Regions from separate parts of the Homo sapiens genome. Here regions 2 and 3 are each linked to region 1. Evidence: fine-mapped expression QTL. A gene starts in region 1. Each other region holds a variant in brackets. All regions are shown on one strand. Distances are between the middles of the regions. Region 1 holds the start of MAPKAP1 (MAPK associated protein 1). Region 2 overlaps MAPKAP1 (MAPK associated protein 1). Region 3 overlaps MAPKAP1 (MAPK associated protein 1).

Region 1 (5,369 bases):
TCAAACCCATAGTCGAACTTGACTACAAGGCTTCTTAAGGGTAGGGTCCCCGTCTGGCTTTTTCACCACTGAATCTCAATAGGCACTCAATAAGTATTGCTTACTGACTGAGGTATACTCATACTGGTAGGCATTAGTAAATAATAGTCACATGCCAGGCTCTGTTATATGTAAGCTACATGTATTAGGTCATTCTATCCTTGCAACAAACTAATGAGGTTATGTAGGACTTCTGTCATTCCCATTTTCCAGGTAAAGATAAGAATATTTAGAGAAGCAACTTGGAGAGATGAAGTCACAAAACTTGTAAGTGGCAGAGTGAGTATTCACTTTTTATTTTTCTAATTTTTTTTTCAAGACAGGGCATTGCTCTTTCATCCAGGCTGGAGTGCAGTGGCATGATCACGTCTCACTGCAGCCTTGACCTCCCAGGGCTCAAGCAATCATCCCATCTCAGCCTCCCAAGCAGCTAGGACTACAGGCATTCACCACCACACCTGGCTAAAAAAAATATATGTGTATATGTGTGTGTATATATATATTTTTTTATTTTTTATTTTTTTGAGACAGACTCTCACTCTGTTGTCCAGGCTGGGCTGCAGTGGTGTGCTCACTGCAACCTTCACCTCCCAGGTTCAAGCGATTCTCCTGCCTCAGCCTCTCAAGTAGCTGGGACTACAGGTGTGTGCCACATGCCTGGCTAATTTTTCGTATTTTTTTTTTTTTTTTTTTAGTAGAGACAGGGTTTCACCATGTTAAGACAGGATGGTCTTGATCTTCTGACCTTGTGATCCGCACCCCTTGGCCTCCCAAAGTGCTGGGATTACAGGCATGAGCCACCGTGCCCGGCCTATATAGAGATAAATTTTTTAAGGTAGTGATGGGGTCTCACCATGTTGCCTAGGCTGGTCTTGAACTCCTGGGCTCAGATGATCTTCCTGCCTTGGTCTCTCAAAGTGCTAGGAAATATTTACTCTTTAGAATCTATAACTGCTTAGCAGTTTTAGATAGGTCGAGTTTTATGTGTCTAGGAGACAGTCAGGCAGCTGTGCTTCAGATTGGAACTCGAGAGAGAGAGAGAGGAAAATGGAGAGTAAGATTTAGGAAGGAACAGATAACCTGGTGACCTCAGAAAATCAAATATCCAAACTTGTTCACACCTGCTGCTTTGTTAGAGTGCCTCTGACAGGTCCCTGATGGAACTGTGGTGGTGTGTGTGCAAGAGTGTGTCTGGGTGCTGAGGTGCACTATTCCCCCAGTATAGATATGTGGTAAGATACCAATTACATAAAGTAATGGGATGTAGTAAGAGATCAATCACATATGGTCATGCGTGGAATGAGGATGTTTTGGTCAATGACAGAGTGCATATGATGGTGGTCCCCTAAGATTATAACATGGTCTTTTAATTGTACCTTTTCTGCATTTAGAGATGTTTAGATACACAAATACCATTGTGTTAGAATTGCCTACAGTATATGGTACAGTAACATGCTGTACAGGTGTGCAGCCTAGAAGCAATAGGCTAATACCAAACAGCCTAGGTGTGTAGTAGGCTCTGACATTGTGTAAGTACAGTCTATGATGTTTACACAACCACAAAATCAGCTAACGATGCATTTCTTGTGTCCTCATCATTAAGTGATGGATGACCATATTTGAAATACATGGGTAGACCCACCGTGTTTTTTGTTTTTTTGTTTTGAGACAGAGTCTCTGTCACCCAGGCTGGAGTGCAGTGGCCTGATCTTGGGTCACTGCAACCTCTGCCTCCCGGGTTCAAGCCATTCTCCTGCCTCAGTCTCCTGAGTAGCTGGGACTACAGGTGCACACCACCACGCCAGACTAATTTTTGTATTTTTAGTAGAGACAGGGTTTCACCATGTTGGCCAGGCTGGTCTCGAACTCCTGATCTCAAGTGATCTGCCCTCCTCGGCCTCCCAAAGTGCTGGGATTACAGGTGTGAGCCACCGTGCCTGGCCCCATGGCATATTTATTAATAAGTTTAAAATTGGGCAGGGGTCCCTCAGGGCTGAAATTCAACCTTGAGTTTTTTCTTTTGCTAAGGTGCGTTTTTGAGAGACTTCCCCAAGCATCTTTCAGGTGGGAGAACCACTCTCACTGCACTCCCTGAATCCTTTTTCCCCCTTCATCGTGGCTTTCTCTACTGATTTCCTCCGTGAGAGAGGAAGGGAGCAGCATGAGACACACTGAACTTCTGCCCTGTGCCAGTCCTCCTACATCTCCTGGAAACCTCCCAGCAGGGCTTGAGGAAGATTATTGTCACCTCCATATTACAGATATTATAATAAGAGAAATAACTAACATTGACTGCATGTTTACTATGTGTCAGGCACTATGCTGGGTGTTTTTCAAGCATCATCCCATTCGATTCCCACAGCAATATACTCTAAAGTTGAAACTATTGCCCTGGATGGGAAAACCCGAGGCTCAGAGAGAAGTGTCACATCCTAGGACACACAGCAAGTTATAAGAGCTGGCATTTGAACCCAGGTCTTTCTCAGAGAGGCTGAGCTGCCTCATCACTCATTTCTGGACGAACTAAGGGCTTTTCTCCGTGGAAATGGGGAGAAAGAAGATTCGATGGAGAAGCCTAACACTGATTCCTGCTCAAGGCAAGTCCAGGCACTGGCGCATCTTGCCAGAACTCAGTCTCCGACCCAGGCCTTTCCCTGCACTGGAGAAGCGGCGCGCATGCGCCCGGCCTCCCTCCCGGCCCCGCCCCGCGGGAAGCTACCGCTCCTTGCTTTCAGCTCTGGGGCTTGCGCACTACGTCCCCAGCCAGAGGCTCCTTCCCGGTCGGGGACTTCCGGAACGCCGGGGTGTGGTTCCGGGTCGTGTGCGGCTCGGGGTAATAGGGCTGCTGCTCGGCCGGCCGGCGGCGGCGAGCAGCAGGGGCATGAGGGCTAACCCGGGAAGCGGCAGCTGAGCGGGCCGGGAGGAGCGCCGGTCCCCGTGGATCCCGAGAGTGCAGAGCTCGGGGCAGGGGCCGGGAGGCGTGGGGGAGCCGGGCCCTCCCCTCAGGAACGTGTCCCGGGGCCGACCCGGCCCGTAGTGTGGAAGCAGCTTCAGGTAAAGGTTGCCCCAGCCGCCAGCTCCCCGCCCGTCCGTCAGCCCACCAGCTTGCCCACCTGGCGGCCCTCTCACCCCTCCAGTTTCAGCGCTGCCCGGCGGGCCGCCTGCCGGGCCCTTGTTCAGGTGGCCCGGGCGCGTTCGTTTCCTGGCCATTTCCAGAACTGGAGGCTGTCAGGAGTCTGAGGCGGGTGTGTGGTTTAGGGGAAAAGAAGCCAGCTGACCTGGTAGTGTGGGGGTGGGGGGTGTAGTTGACTCCGGCAGTTTCTGGGCCTGCACTTGGCAATATCTAGGTGCCCTGGTCTTCATAATGTGAAAATCAAGGTTTTCAAGCATTGACTGTGTGGTCCTTGTTTCCTTGCGTCCCTTCTCCCCCTCCCCCTTAAAGAGGTTAACAGCCTTACAGACTTTTTTCTAGCTACAGTGCTGCTGGAACTTTGATTCATTCTTTGTTTATGGGAGTGGCAAGGAGTCATTTAGATTTGTTTAAGGCTGGGAAAAAGAGATTGTAGCGTAAACAAGATTATGACTTTAACCAGAGACCCCCAAATTGACTCAGAAATTGGTTAAAACTTCCTTTTGAATGAATGAAAGTCACTTTGGAAGCCCACCACAGTACCTGGCACTGTACAAAGCACCATGTTGTTATAAACCCAAATCGGCAAAGTTCAAAACTTTCCCAGGTGTGAAGAGTCAAATGGAGACCCATTGGTTTAAAAAAAGCAGCGTTCTCATTCTCTGACAAGCAGGAGAGGTGGATCCGTAATGTTAAAACCCACTTGAGCAGAAGCCTAGATATGGGTTTTATTCCTTATATTTTATGAGCCCACACAAGGTACCTAGTAAACACGGAAAGAGTTCTTGATGAAGCAATAATTGTTTTCATGTTTTTCAGTTTACACACCTGCGGGATTTGGGGCATGCTGGTAGCCCTTTCCCATTCATCTGTGTGCTCATGCCTACCTTCAACTACTGTGTGTCCCAGACTGCACTTACACCCCCTTACATCTCCTAATCTGGCTCCTGGTTACCTTTCCAGTTATGCTTGAAAAGGTCTCCTTCTTTAATTACCCCATCCTGATCCATTACTCTGAATAAGTAGGATCTCTAATCATTTTTGTTCTTTCCTATTCCATTGATTTTTGTAGAACATTCTCCCTACCTTGCCTAGGTTTCCCCTTTTCTCTTTCAGTCTATTGAGACGCTTCCCACGGCTCAGCTGAGTTGGCCTCACCCAACCAATTCAGGACAACCCCACCTGGAAATGATTTTTCCTCTAGAATTCTATAAGCGCTCATTTTTATCTACAATTATTTAACTTAGCAAATGTTTACTGAATATGGATATGTATATATATGCCAGGTACCATGCTAGGCAATTAGAGATAAATATAAGATTCAGTCTTTGCTGCCAGGGAGCTCAATTTAGTGAAAGAGAGATAAGGGAAATGAATAATTCTAACACCGTGATAAGTACATTGTGTGAGAGTTCTTGTGACAGTGGTAGGTGCGGGAGGGGAATGGGTTATTCACCTTTGAGGGATGGGATGTGGCCAGGTAATGCTTCATAATTTGAGGTAAACTAAACTTTGAGTATTTGGGTATTATATAGGGGTTTCTATTGTTTAATCATTTTAACCTCAATTTACAGATTAGGAAGACCCATAATAAATTACACAGCTGGTAGGAGACAGAGCCAGGATTCAAACCCAGGTCTGTCTGATGCCTAAATCTGTGCTTTTTCCATTACATGTCTTGCCTTTTTCTCACATCATCTCCCTCTTTTTATGCAAGTACATATTGAAACCAAAAGTTATATAGGACAAAACATATGAATGTTAAAATGAATGGTACAGAAATCTTTTAAATGTAAAGACTGTGCTCTTCCAAGGCAAGGAGATGGCAGGTAGGTTAGTTAGCTCAGCTTTGAATATGAGCAGAGAAGACAGTCTATAGAAAATAGGCATGGACTCTGGATTCAATTCCTGGTCCCTGTTCTTACAGGATATGTGACCTTCGACACATAACTCCAAGCATCACTTTCTTCAACTAGGGGTTGGGTTAGGGAATAATATTGACCACATGGAGTGTTGTGAATATTTATTGAACTAATGGGGATAAAGGGCCTGGTACGTGGTAAAGTCCCCCGAAATAAATAGCTATAAGATACAAAGGTATAATGCTTGAGGCATGGTTTTAGACTGGTGAGTGAGTTTACAGCCTGAGTCATGCAAGTCATTGCTTCTTTTAGCAGGGTACAAGGACGTAAAGTTGGAG
Region 2 (5,369 bases), 24 kb after region 1:
TTGGTAAACTCACCGGACAGCCCCTTGGGAACAAGAAAGATGCACCTGTTGTCTATTCATTCCACAATGAGCTCTTATTGAATGCCATCCACATATACTAGAAACTGGCAGCATAGTGATGGGTAAGATAGTCAGTGTCTTGAGAGTTTAGAAGTTTAGAAGAGAAAACCAACATGTAAACAGATTATTATTTAAAAAGAAATGCCAATGTGATTTGTTTGCGATCTTTTATTTGTTCTTTAATTCATTCATTCCTTAACATGGCAACCAGGGAGATTCTTTTAAATGTGAGACAGATCATTCACAATCCTCCAGTGACCCCTCATTTCACTTGGAGTAAAAGCTAAAGGCCTTGGGATGGCCTGTAAGGCCCTACAGACTCACCCCAGTCTTTCAGATCTTATTATCTACTACTTGCTCCTTGGCGGACTCCTTGCTGCTCCTTGAGCAGTGTGAGGCATGTTCCCCTCTGCTTGGCAGACCTATTCCCTGGAGTGTCTACATGGCTTGTTCTCTCACCTCCTTCAGGTGTTAAGTCAGATGTCACTTAAGTGAGGCATTCCTTGACTATTTCATTTACTGTTGCAACTCACGGCTCCACCGAGCATTATCCATTTCTTTCTCTGTGCTATTTTTCTTCATGGCACTTCTAACTCACTATATAATTTACTTCTTTGTCCTGCCATGAGGGCAGGACTTTGCCTTCTCTGCTGTGTTTTCTGCATCTAGAACAGTGCCTGGCACATAGTAGGCATTCAGTAAATATTTGTTGAATGAGTAAAATCAACAAACACTTAGCACCTTACTAACAGGCAGTGTGCTGGGTTAATTATTTGGTAGAACTAGGAACTAAGTGCAGTGAAATGGGCACATGGAGGGAGCAAGCCGGGTGCGGTGGCTCAGGTCTGTAATCCCAACGCCCTGGGAGGCCGATGGGGAGGATCGCTGGAATCCAGGAATTCAAGACCAGTCTGGGCAGCATGGTGAGACCTTGTCTCTGCAAAAAATTAGCCGGGTGTGGTAGTGCATGCTTGTAGTCCCAGCTACCTGAGAGGCCAAGTTGGGAGGATCGCCTGAGCCCAGGAGGTTAAGGCTACCGTTGAGCTGGATTTTGAATAATATGTTAGGAGGTAGTCAGGGGAAGAAGGGTGAAAAGGCTTCTCAGACCAAGGGCTAAGTCTTACGGAATGCAACTTGTCTTTATTGTAGTTGTTTGGGCTTTGGCGCTCCTTAGGGTAGACTAAAACTTCAGAAAACAGACTTGAACTTTTTTAGCCCTTAGAAGGTTTAAGCATAGATTTTAGTAGCAAAGTTCTATAGTTTAGTTTCAGTATAAACAAAACAGTTTCGAGGGAGTTGAAAATTACCACAAATTTAGTGGCTTCAAACCTCACATTATTGTGGGGTTTTTCAAGCTTGGCATTATTCATATTGATATTTGGGGAGGTATAATTTTTTGTTGTGGATGCTGCCTTGTGCATTGTACCATGTTTACTAGCGTCACTGGCATCTACCCACTGGCTACTAATAGCAGCCATCTCTAGTTGTAACAGCTGGAACTATCTCCAGATATTGATTGCTTAAATGTCTCCCAGGAAGAAAAACCGGCTTCCATTTGAACCATTACATTATCGTTGATGGAATCTGTAACAACTTCACAAATGATTTGGGGAGAGATTTATACCTTAATGAAGTAACCATATTTATGAATCTAGAATTGGGTAAATTTAAAATTGTTGGTTCCTTAAAAATAATATTCATATGACTCACTGTAATGATGGTAGAAATAAAATGCTATTAAAATAGGTTGGACTCTGGGTGATATAGAAGGGTTTACCAAGGATGAGATACTTCTGTTGGACTTACAAGAATAAGATTTGTATTGGAGAAGGGTACACCTGAAATAAAGGAGTATCATTACCAAAGGCCAGCACATATTCAGTGCAGTCCTGGAAGTTGCAAGATGGGGAGGGAAGAGGTAGTGAAATTGCATTTTAGAGAGCCTTATGTGTTATATGTGAAGGGTTATAGGCTTATTTTCCTTCACTATGCTGAATTCATTTTCTTTTGCTGCATGACAAATTACCACAAACTTATCTGCTTAAAACGATATGAATTTATGATTTCACGGTGAGTCAGGAGTCATGGCTTCAGCTGAGTTTTGTGTTCATGCTCTTAAAGGGATGAAATTAAGGTGTCAGCTGGCTATATAGCTCATCTGGAGGCTCACTAGGGAAAGATCTTCCAATCTCTCTCAGGTTGGGTAGTGGAATTCATTTCCTTGCGGTGATATGACTAAGATCCTCCTTCTCTTGCTAGTGGTTGGCCAGGACCATTTTCAGCTCCTAGAGGCTGCTCTCAGGTCCTTGCCATGTG[T/G]AGTTCCATAACATAGCTGTTTGCTTCTTCAAGGCCGGCAAGAAGATCTCTCTGGCTTAGAATTGCTCTCTTCAGGTGGCTAAGATGGAGTCTTATATAATGGAAAGTAATCAAGGAAATGACTGTCCCATCACCTTTGCCATGTTTTATTGGCCAGAAAGAAGCAAGTCAGATTCCACCCACACTCAAGGGTAGGGGACAACAGAAAGGGGCAAGAATTTAAGCCAGGCGCAGTGGCTCATGCCTGTAACCCCAGCACTTTGGGAGGCTGAGGTGGGTGGATCGCCTGAGGTCAGGAGTTTGAGACCAGCCTGCCCAACATAGTGAAACTCCATCTCTACTAAAAATACAAAAAAATTAGCTGGGCGTGGTGGCGGGCACCTATAATCTCAGCTACTAGGGAGGCTGAGGCAGGAGAATCGCTTGAACCTGGGAGGCGGAGGTTGTGAGCTGAGATCGCACCATTGCATTCCAGCCTGGGCAACAAGAGCAAAACTCCGTCTCAAAAAAAAAAAAAAAAGAATTTAAAATTCTATCTACTGGGTCCACCCTCAGAAGATCCATGAAGGCAGTGGCCAAAAGTCTTTATTTTTGCTCAGCAGTGTATCTTTGGTGCCCAGCATGTAGTAAGTGCCTTATAAATATTTGTCAAATGAATGAAACCAATGAATGAATATTTGGTAGACAATTGAGTGCTAGTTACAGCTTAAGCTCCTAAACCGGTAATTTCACATTGAGAAACAGTCTAGTTCTTTTGGCATTATTTATATTCTTCAGTTTAGGTAAAACTAGTAAACATTTTGACCCAAGATCTTAAAGTAAAACGTAAAATTGTTTATTTTCACAAGTGTCAGTCAAATCTATTATGTCAGAGAGACAACACCCATTGGAAAAATAATTTAGGGGCCACATTATACCGAACTGGCAGATTTCTTGTAACAGCTGGAAATGTTGGCAGGTTTGAAGTTTTGGGGGTGGTGGGTGGTTAGGTTGTTTGAAGTTTCACAGCTATTGCTAGCACATAAACATTATTTCAAAACACTTTGAAAATACAGATTGTTTTATAATAGCTGAATAACAGTATTTTATTCTAACTTGTGCTTAGAACTTTATAGTTTAGTGTGGTTTATACTTAACAGTTCTTCAACCTTATAGGAAACATCTTTTGAGTAAAATTTAGAGTTTTGAGTTGTCCATTGATAAAGTGCCATTTTATCTGTACAAAATGACATTTCTGATACCAAAGTCTATGTTTTTCCACTAGATCCTTGCCATTCAAACTGAGGTTAAGAGAGTCCTAGGATGTGCCAGGGTGTAGTGGAAGCTACAAAGTAACCATGGTACATTTTCCTGAAGTATCAATTTTAGTGATGTATTTGAAGATAAACATTTTTTTTTCCTGTTAAAACAAACATAGGGGAGGGGCACAGTGGCTCATGCCTGTGATCCCAACTCTTTGGGATGCCAAAGTGGGAGTATCGCTTGAGCCCAGGAGTTTGAGACTAGCCTGGGGAAGATGACAAGACTCTTGTCTCTACAAAAAAATTTAAAAATTAGCTGGGTGTGGTGGTGCTTGCCTGCAGTCCCAGGCTGGGGTGGGAGGATCACTTGAGCCCGGGAAGTCAAGGCCGCAGTGAGCTGTGATCACACAACTGCACTCCAGCCTGGGTGACAGAGCGAGACGCTATCTCTGTAAACAAACATACATAGGTGCAGTGTAGTATAAAATAGAATACAAAATATGAATGAATTCTAAAAATAAATTTCTTATGGTGTGTTACTGTAGGTGGCTCCCCTAGGTTGTCTCATACCTTGATTTATGGTCACTGTCCCATGCCCTTCAGGTGTGTCCGTGGAGAAGTGTGAGAATCACTCTACCAGGTTCTTTTTTAACTGGATCTTGGCAGATGTAAGATTCTGAGGCATTTCGAGGTTAGTGGCATAAGACAAGAAAACCAGGGATCAGGGTTCCTTTGTCTGAGGGAGACATTTGATAGAAGAAGAGACTGTGCCTCCTGGTAGGTTAGTGGGAGGCTTGTCCCTGATGACTTAATCACTCATGGGGCCTCAGCAGGACAGCTGGAATGACAGAGATGGCTGAGCTTCTTTCTCCCCATAGTCTTTTACCCCTGACTTTTTCCCATAATTCAGAAGTGGTCCAGAAGAGGCCAGGGCAGAAGCTGCAAGCGCTCTTGAGGCCAAGGTTCAGAATTTCCACAACATTCCTTCCCCTATATTCTGTTGGTCAAAGCAAATCGCAGTGTGAGTCCAGATTCAAGGATGAGGAAATAGACTCCACCTCTTGATGGGAGGAGCTTCAAAAATTGTGGTCTTAAAAAATCTACCTTGTCTCCTTGGGCAAGATACTTAACTCCTTTAAGCCTTAGTTTTGTTTGTTTTTAGATCTATAAAATGAGGATAGTATTAATGCCTACCTCCTGAAGTGGCTGTAAGGATTAAATATGTTGTTACATGAAAAGTGATTAGTACATCTCATGGTAAGAGCTCAGTAAATGTCAACTGTTACTGTTTCACTTGTGTTTCTGCCTAATGAAAGCATAGCTATCCTTAAATACTTCTGCCTTCCTTCCTGAAGTCTTCTGTGATGTTCCTGTCTCTTGGAAAACATGTTGTCTTAATATCTCATTTGGTGGTGGGTTTATCTTGCTTTATGTTATTGTTCCCTATGTATATGACACAGCTCCTCTGCTGAAGTTTGTAAGTAAACTTCTGGAGGGGGCAGGCCAGTATTTATACAATTTTTCATTTAGTGCTGAGATGATTTTGTGAATGAATCTCATTCAAAATAAGATAAATCATTTCTGTTATTTTAGTCTAGTAAGCACTTTTAGTCAAAATATGGAAATAAAAATGTAAAAAGAAGAAACAAACTCTCCAGATATATGGTCTCACAATTTACTGCTTAATGAAATTGGGCATATTCACATGGAGAAGATTTTAATTCCCTGAGGGGGAAAAAAGCTCAATTTTTG
Region 3 (5,369 bases), 160 kb after region 1:
ACGTTTGGCCCACCACGCTTTCTGTTAGTATGATCAGTTTGTGATGGTTTGTCCAGGACTCTCCCTGTTTCAAAACTGAAAGTCCTGAATCTATGAGCACTCCCTGATGCTCACCTCCAACCCCTTCCTCCATCCTAGGTAAACCAGATTGGTCACTCTACTTTATCTGTTGCTTGGTCTATACATAAGTGGGCTCTGCCTGACTGATACTTGTGTATAGTGTGACTTGGCACCAAACAGCACAGATTTTTCAGAGACCAGCAAGACTGTTCATAGAGATCTTTGTGCCCACTGAATTCTGTCACCATTTTTCTCTGTTCAGCAAACAAGTTCTGTATGCAGCTTGCAGTAATGCCATTTGACTTTTACTAAGTTTGTTAGTTATGTTAAATAACTCTAGCTGCTGGAACACATAACCCCCCAAATCTCGCCACGTTATCCTAGGGTTGGCAAACTTTTTTTTTGAGATAGGGTATTGCTCTGTCACCCAGGCTGGAGTGCAGTGACATCATCTTGGCTCACTGCAACCTCTGCCTCCCAGGCTCGAGCAATCGTCCCACCTCAGCCTCCCAAGTAGCTGGGACTACAGGCATGCACCACCATGCCCAAATACTTTTTGTATTTTTTGTAGAGATAGAGTGTTGCTGTGTTGCCCAGGCTGGTCTCAAACTCCTGGACTCAAGTGATCTGCTGACCTCAGCTTCCCAAAGTGCTGGGATTATAGGCTTCAGCCACCGCTTCTAGCTCAGCAAACTTTTTCTGCAAAGGGCCAGATGGTAAATATTTAGGCTATTGGCCATAGAGTTTCTGTAACTCAGCACTGCCATTGTAGTGTGTGAGTAGCCGTAGACTACATAGACAAATGGGCATGGGGTAGGTTTGTTGGTCAACTTCTGGATTTTCCCAATAAGTTTCTTTCTTTCTTTCCGTCTTGCCCTCCCCTCCCCTCCCATTTTTTTGGGTAGAGTTTCACTCTTGTCACCCAGGCTGGAGTGTAATGGCGTGATCTTGGCTCACTGCAACCTCCGCCTCCCAGACTCAAGCGATGCTCCTGCCTCAGCCTCCCGAGTAGCTGTGATTACAGGCACCTGCCACCATGCCCTGCCAATTTTTGTGTTTTTAGTAGAGATGGGTTTTCGCCATGTTGGCCAGGCTGGTCTCGAAGTCCTGACCTCAGGGGATCTGCCTGCCTCTACCTCCCAAATCCTCCCCTGGGATTACAGGCATGAGCCACCGCGCCCAGCCTAATAATTTTATTTCTTGTTCACATTTGTCTGATGTAGGCCAGGTGACTCTCTTGGGTATTTCTCCTCTAGGCAGTGGCTCAGGGCTCCCCAGGTGGGTGGAAAATGGGGAACATGGAAGATGAGGAGTGAGGAGGGGCCTATATCTGTATCTTTATCTCATACACCCCCCCACACACACACAGTGACATATATAAAATATGTGGTGACACATATAATTTTGCTTTTAGTTCAATGAAAAGCACATATAGATATATATAGCTACACATCCATATCATACATATATTGATATGTATAGATAATACATCTCTATATGCTTTTCATTGACTAAAATCAAAATTGTTTTTAATTTAAAAAAATTTTTAGAGACAGTGTCTCACTATGCTGCCCAGGCTGGACTGGAACTCTTGGGTTCAGACAGTCCTCCTGAGTAGCTGGAACTAGAGGCTCACATCACCGTTAGAAAACAGGTTTTTAAATTCTGAAACTTAGTCTGTAAATTCATCTGTTGATTCCTGGGGGCTCTTGAACCTCAGGAAATGCTGCTGTGATTATTAATATTAGCTGAGACTCTGGCATGTAGGAAGTGTTACATAGTTGCTATTGTTATTTCTGTCAGGGATTCTCAGTGGGAATAATTTACACTAAGGTGAGAATGGGGTTTAACCTTCCTTTGAGTTATTTTTTATTATATAATTAATATGTGTCCATTATAGCAAAATTGGGAAATAGATCTGTTTCTGCATATAAAAGAAATTTTTAAATTTGTCTTCATTCCATCATGCAAAGGTTGTGAATTATATTTTATAATTATTTACATTTTTTAAAGGGGAACTAATTAATGAATTTCTCATTGGAAAATTATTCTGTGGAGGGAACGTGAAATTGGATGTCTTCTGATGTTCTTACTAAATCAGGACTAGATCTATCTAGCTTTCCCTCTAGAACCCCTGGGCCCCAGGAATCCCCTGGATAGAGTTGTTGTTCAGGGAAGGAGAATGGATTATTCTAACAACTTGCAAATTAGGAGCCTGGTAATGGAAACTGCCTCTTTTAACAAATCTTCAAGTGGATTCCTAAGCTATCCATTGTTCCTGATTGATTTTGGACAGAGCAAATATATCTATAAATGGGAATCCCTAACTTGCTGA[C/T]TACTTTGAGCTTAAGCAGTAAAGATGTTTGGATATCAGTAGTGTCAGAGAGGAGAAGTAGGGAGTGGGAGGAATGGGAAGGTTTTTGGCTGACCCCCAAAACCAGATAAAGAGCTGGAGCTCAGATAGTGCCCAGCATCTCAAGAAGTGTTTCTTGCCAGCAGTGACCAAGCCAAAGCCTACTGTTCCTTTAGACAAAGTAGGACAAGGGAGAATGAGATCTTGAGTGGGCTAAGTGCCTCTCAAGGATAGGGACCTGCCTTGTTCGTCTCCTTCTCCCATTCCCAACACAGACCTAATTTAGTCAGAATTTGTGAGACTGAATTGAGTTCAAAAGTGGCAATGACAAAAACAACTGTGGTAGTATTATTACCTTATATGTGTTGACATTAAAGTTTCATGCCAGGATTCTACTCTGGAGTGGGGGAAGAAGGGCATTAAAGGAAAAAAAAAAAAGTCAAGGCCAATAAAATGGTCAGAATCTCCTTAGGTTAGAAGTCAGAGCAGTTAAACTGTCTCCTATATATATATGTATTTTCCTTTAAATATTTGATATATTAGAGGAACATGAGGAAGGAACAGTTCTAACCAAGAGCTCTTTGGGTAACAGCTGTCAGGTAACAGTGGAAGGTCTTAGCCCAGAAGCTGGGCTGCCTTGGGCAGGCTCCCAGAGACTACCTTGGCTTCTCTTGGCTCTGCAGAAAGGGAACGATGAGCTGCTTTTTTAAAGAGGCGTGCCCTAGGTTCATTCATGCTCTTTACTGGGCTTTTCAGAAGAGTGGGGAGTTTTAGTTTACCTTCTTGATGATAAATCCACAGTATACCCCAAGTGACCAGACCTTTATTAAAGGGTGTCATTAGCTTGAAGCCTTTCCTTCTGTTATATGCTATTGCCTTGTGGTCTAGAGAATGAAAAAAAGAGGAGGGCAGGGAGAATATTTTCACACACTCATTCAGTTTCATACCTCCAATAGATGCTATCTCATTTATTTCTTTTTTTATCATTTATTTCTTTTTTATGATATTTTAAAATTGGCCACACCCCATCAGTAAAGTTTCTTATACGCAATTCACTTTTATAATATGTAAGCTGAGGCTCAGAGACAGGTAGTTAGTTACTAATTCAAGGCCATGCTGTTTGGTAAGAGGCAGAGCTAAAATAGAATAAGGAATAAAAGAAGATGCTTGTGTTCTTTGTAACCAGGCCTGACAAAATGAGTATAAATTATCCTGGTTATTTATTGTTTGCTTGATTCATAGAGGACCAACTGTGTGTTGTTTCTTTTCATTCTGTTGTATTAGCAAACATTTTCATTGTCCAGATTGTCCTCGTGTATGGAAATGTAACATATGCAGCCTGTTTAATTTTGTATTTGTAAATCTGACTTGATTTCCTTTTTGGCAACAGCTACTGTCTAGAGAAAAGAAAGGATTTTTCTTTGTGTCTGTTTAAAGTGACAGAAATATTGGAGCAAGTGATAAAGATGGAAAGCATTAATTACACACTTCTAAGAATTTAAAGGTCAGACAAGCTAAATATGTATGTTTTGCTCACTGGAATGTCTTGAAATTGTGCCAGGATTCGCTTTGTTCCTACCATAAAAGCACACATTTTAGATAACCATCAACTTACTTTGTATCTAAAAATTATGCCAGATTGTTGCTTTAGTTAATATGTGTCTTCAAAGTCGGGGAGCTCCCATTTCTGAGCCCATGTGATTGGTTTGGTGATGCTTCCCCCTTTGGCCATGTTTAGTTACTATGTCTCATTTTGATTTCCTCTGTTCTCCCCTCAGCTTATGTCGGAGTCTGTCAGCTGCTGCTATGTACATGTCAGGCTAGTGACTTGGAATGTTTATTAATACAATGTCAGTCTTGCTGTTGAAAAAAACTGTGATGCTTCTCAGAAGGTTGTGATAGAACGAAGCGTTTGATTTCCAGATCCTGTCTGCACTGCATGGTGAATACATTCTCAGATGTTATGCAGTTCACTGACCTGACAGTTATGGAACCCCGCCTGGGACCCCATTTCAGCAGGACATATTTGAACAGAAACAGTTTGCAAAACTTTACACACTTAAACTCCTGCCAAGGCAAACTGTTAGCCACTTGAGTTTGTTATAAATACCCAGTGGCAGTGGTTGGAAGTAGCCCACGGTGTGTTTTATATTCTGAACGGAATGTGAATGTCTTTGCAGTTATATAGAGTAGTAAATAATTGAGTTTGATTAGGGAGAGGGACCTCATTATCCCCCACCTGTGCCCAGCTGGAAGGGGAGGGTCGAAATGAAGCCATTAGCTGTCTCTCTTACTGGCATCTCAAAGAGCTCAAATACATCTGTGTCTTATTTTCTTTTCTGGCACAATCAGTCGAGCAAGCTAAGCAGGCATGACCGGATTTGGCAAGTCCCAAGGACTCTGGCAAAGATACACAAGGAGAAGGCGGAGGGCAGTCATTTTGGCTTCTCACTGCCCATTAGTCTAGCGAGTTATGTTTTTGGAAAATGTCTGTTTTGAAAAAGAGTACTTTGTCCAATGTCAAACATCGCATGCTCCCACAGTACGCTTTGATCTTTAAAAAAAATTTTTGGTCAGTCTAAGGGGAAACAAAATGTGGCATTCACACTAGTGTAAACTCTTTATGGATAAAGTCATACTCAGAGGACTTATTTTAAAGCAGGCATGCTGCAGTTATTACAAGGCCTTCTCTTGCTCATATATTTTCATTTTCTACCTTGAAATGCTGGAGAATGAACATGCATGGAATTGGACCAGAGCAGGTTGGGAACTAGAGTGTGTCTTCATCACTATTGGGAACTGGTCAGGACCAGAGACTCGAGAACTGCTCGTAGCAACCTTTTCCCACTTCTGCAAACTGAGACTGTGGCTTTTGAAACCATGACATTCTCCAATGTCTCCTTAAAAATCCTGTAGGTCATATGGTTAGTCTAAGAGTCTGGACATTCATAGTCAA

The links. PIP is the estimated chance that this variant, and not a neighbour inherited with it, causes the effect.
Region 2: its variant is the best candidate, but not a certain one, in a credible set for the expression of MAPKAP1 in whole blood (INTERVAL, PIP 0.77).
Region 3: its variant is the best candidate, but not a certain one, in a credible set for the expression of MAPKAP1 in whole blood (INTERVAL, PIP 0.56).

Annotation. Positions count from the first base shown.
Region 1 is chr9:125,704,695-125,710,063 of GRCh38, reverse strand. It overlaps MAPKAP1 (MAPK associated protein 1), which reads left to right and starts at 2,856. Exons shown (of 12, transcript NM_001006617.3): 1 at 2,856-3,093. RefSeq lists enhancers at 2,483-2,642, 2,640-2,934 and silencers at 2,643-2,812, 2,923-3,152.
Region 2 is chr9:125,680,487-125,685,855 of GRCh38, reverse strand. The region is part of intron 1 of MAPKAP1 (MAPK associated protein 1); the gene reads left to right. Among named protein-coding and RNA genes, the nearest start is that of MAPKAP1, 24 kb to the left of the region's middle. The variant T/G (reference allele first, on the strand shown) is at 2,377.
Region 3 is chr9:125,549,132-125,554,500 of GRCh38, reverse strand. The region is part of intron 6 of MAPKAP1 (MAPK associated protein 1); the gene reads left to right. Among named protein-coding and RNA genes, the nearest start is that of MAPKAP1, 160 kb to the left of the region's middle. The variant C/T (reference allele first, on the strand shown) is at 2,396.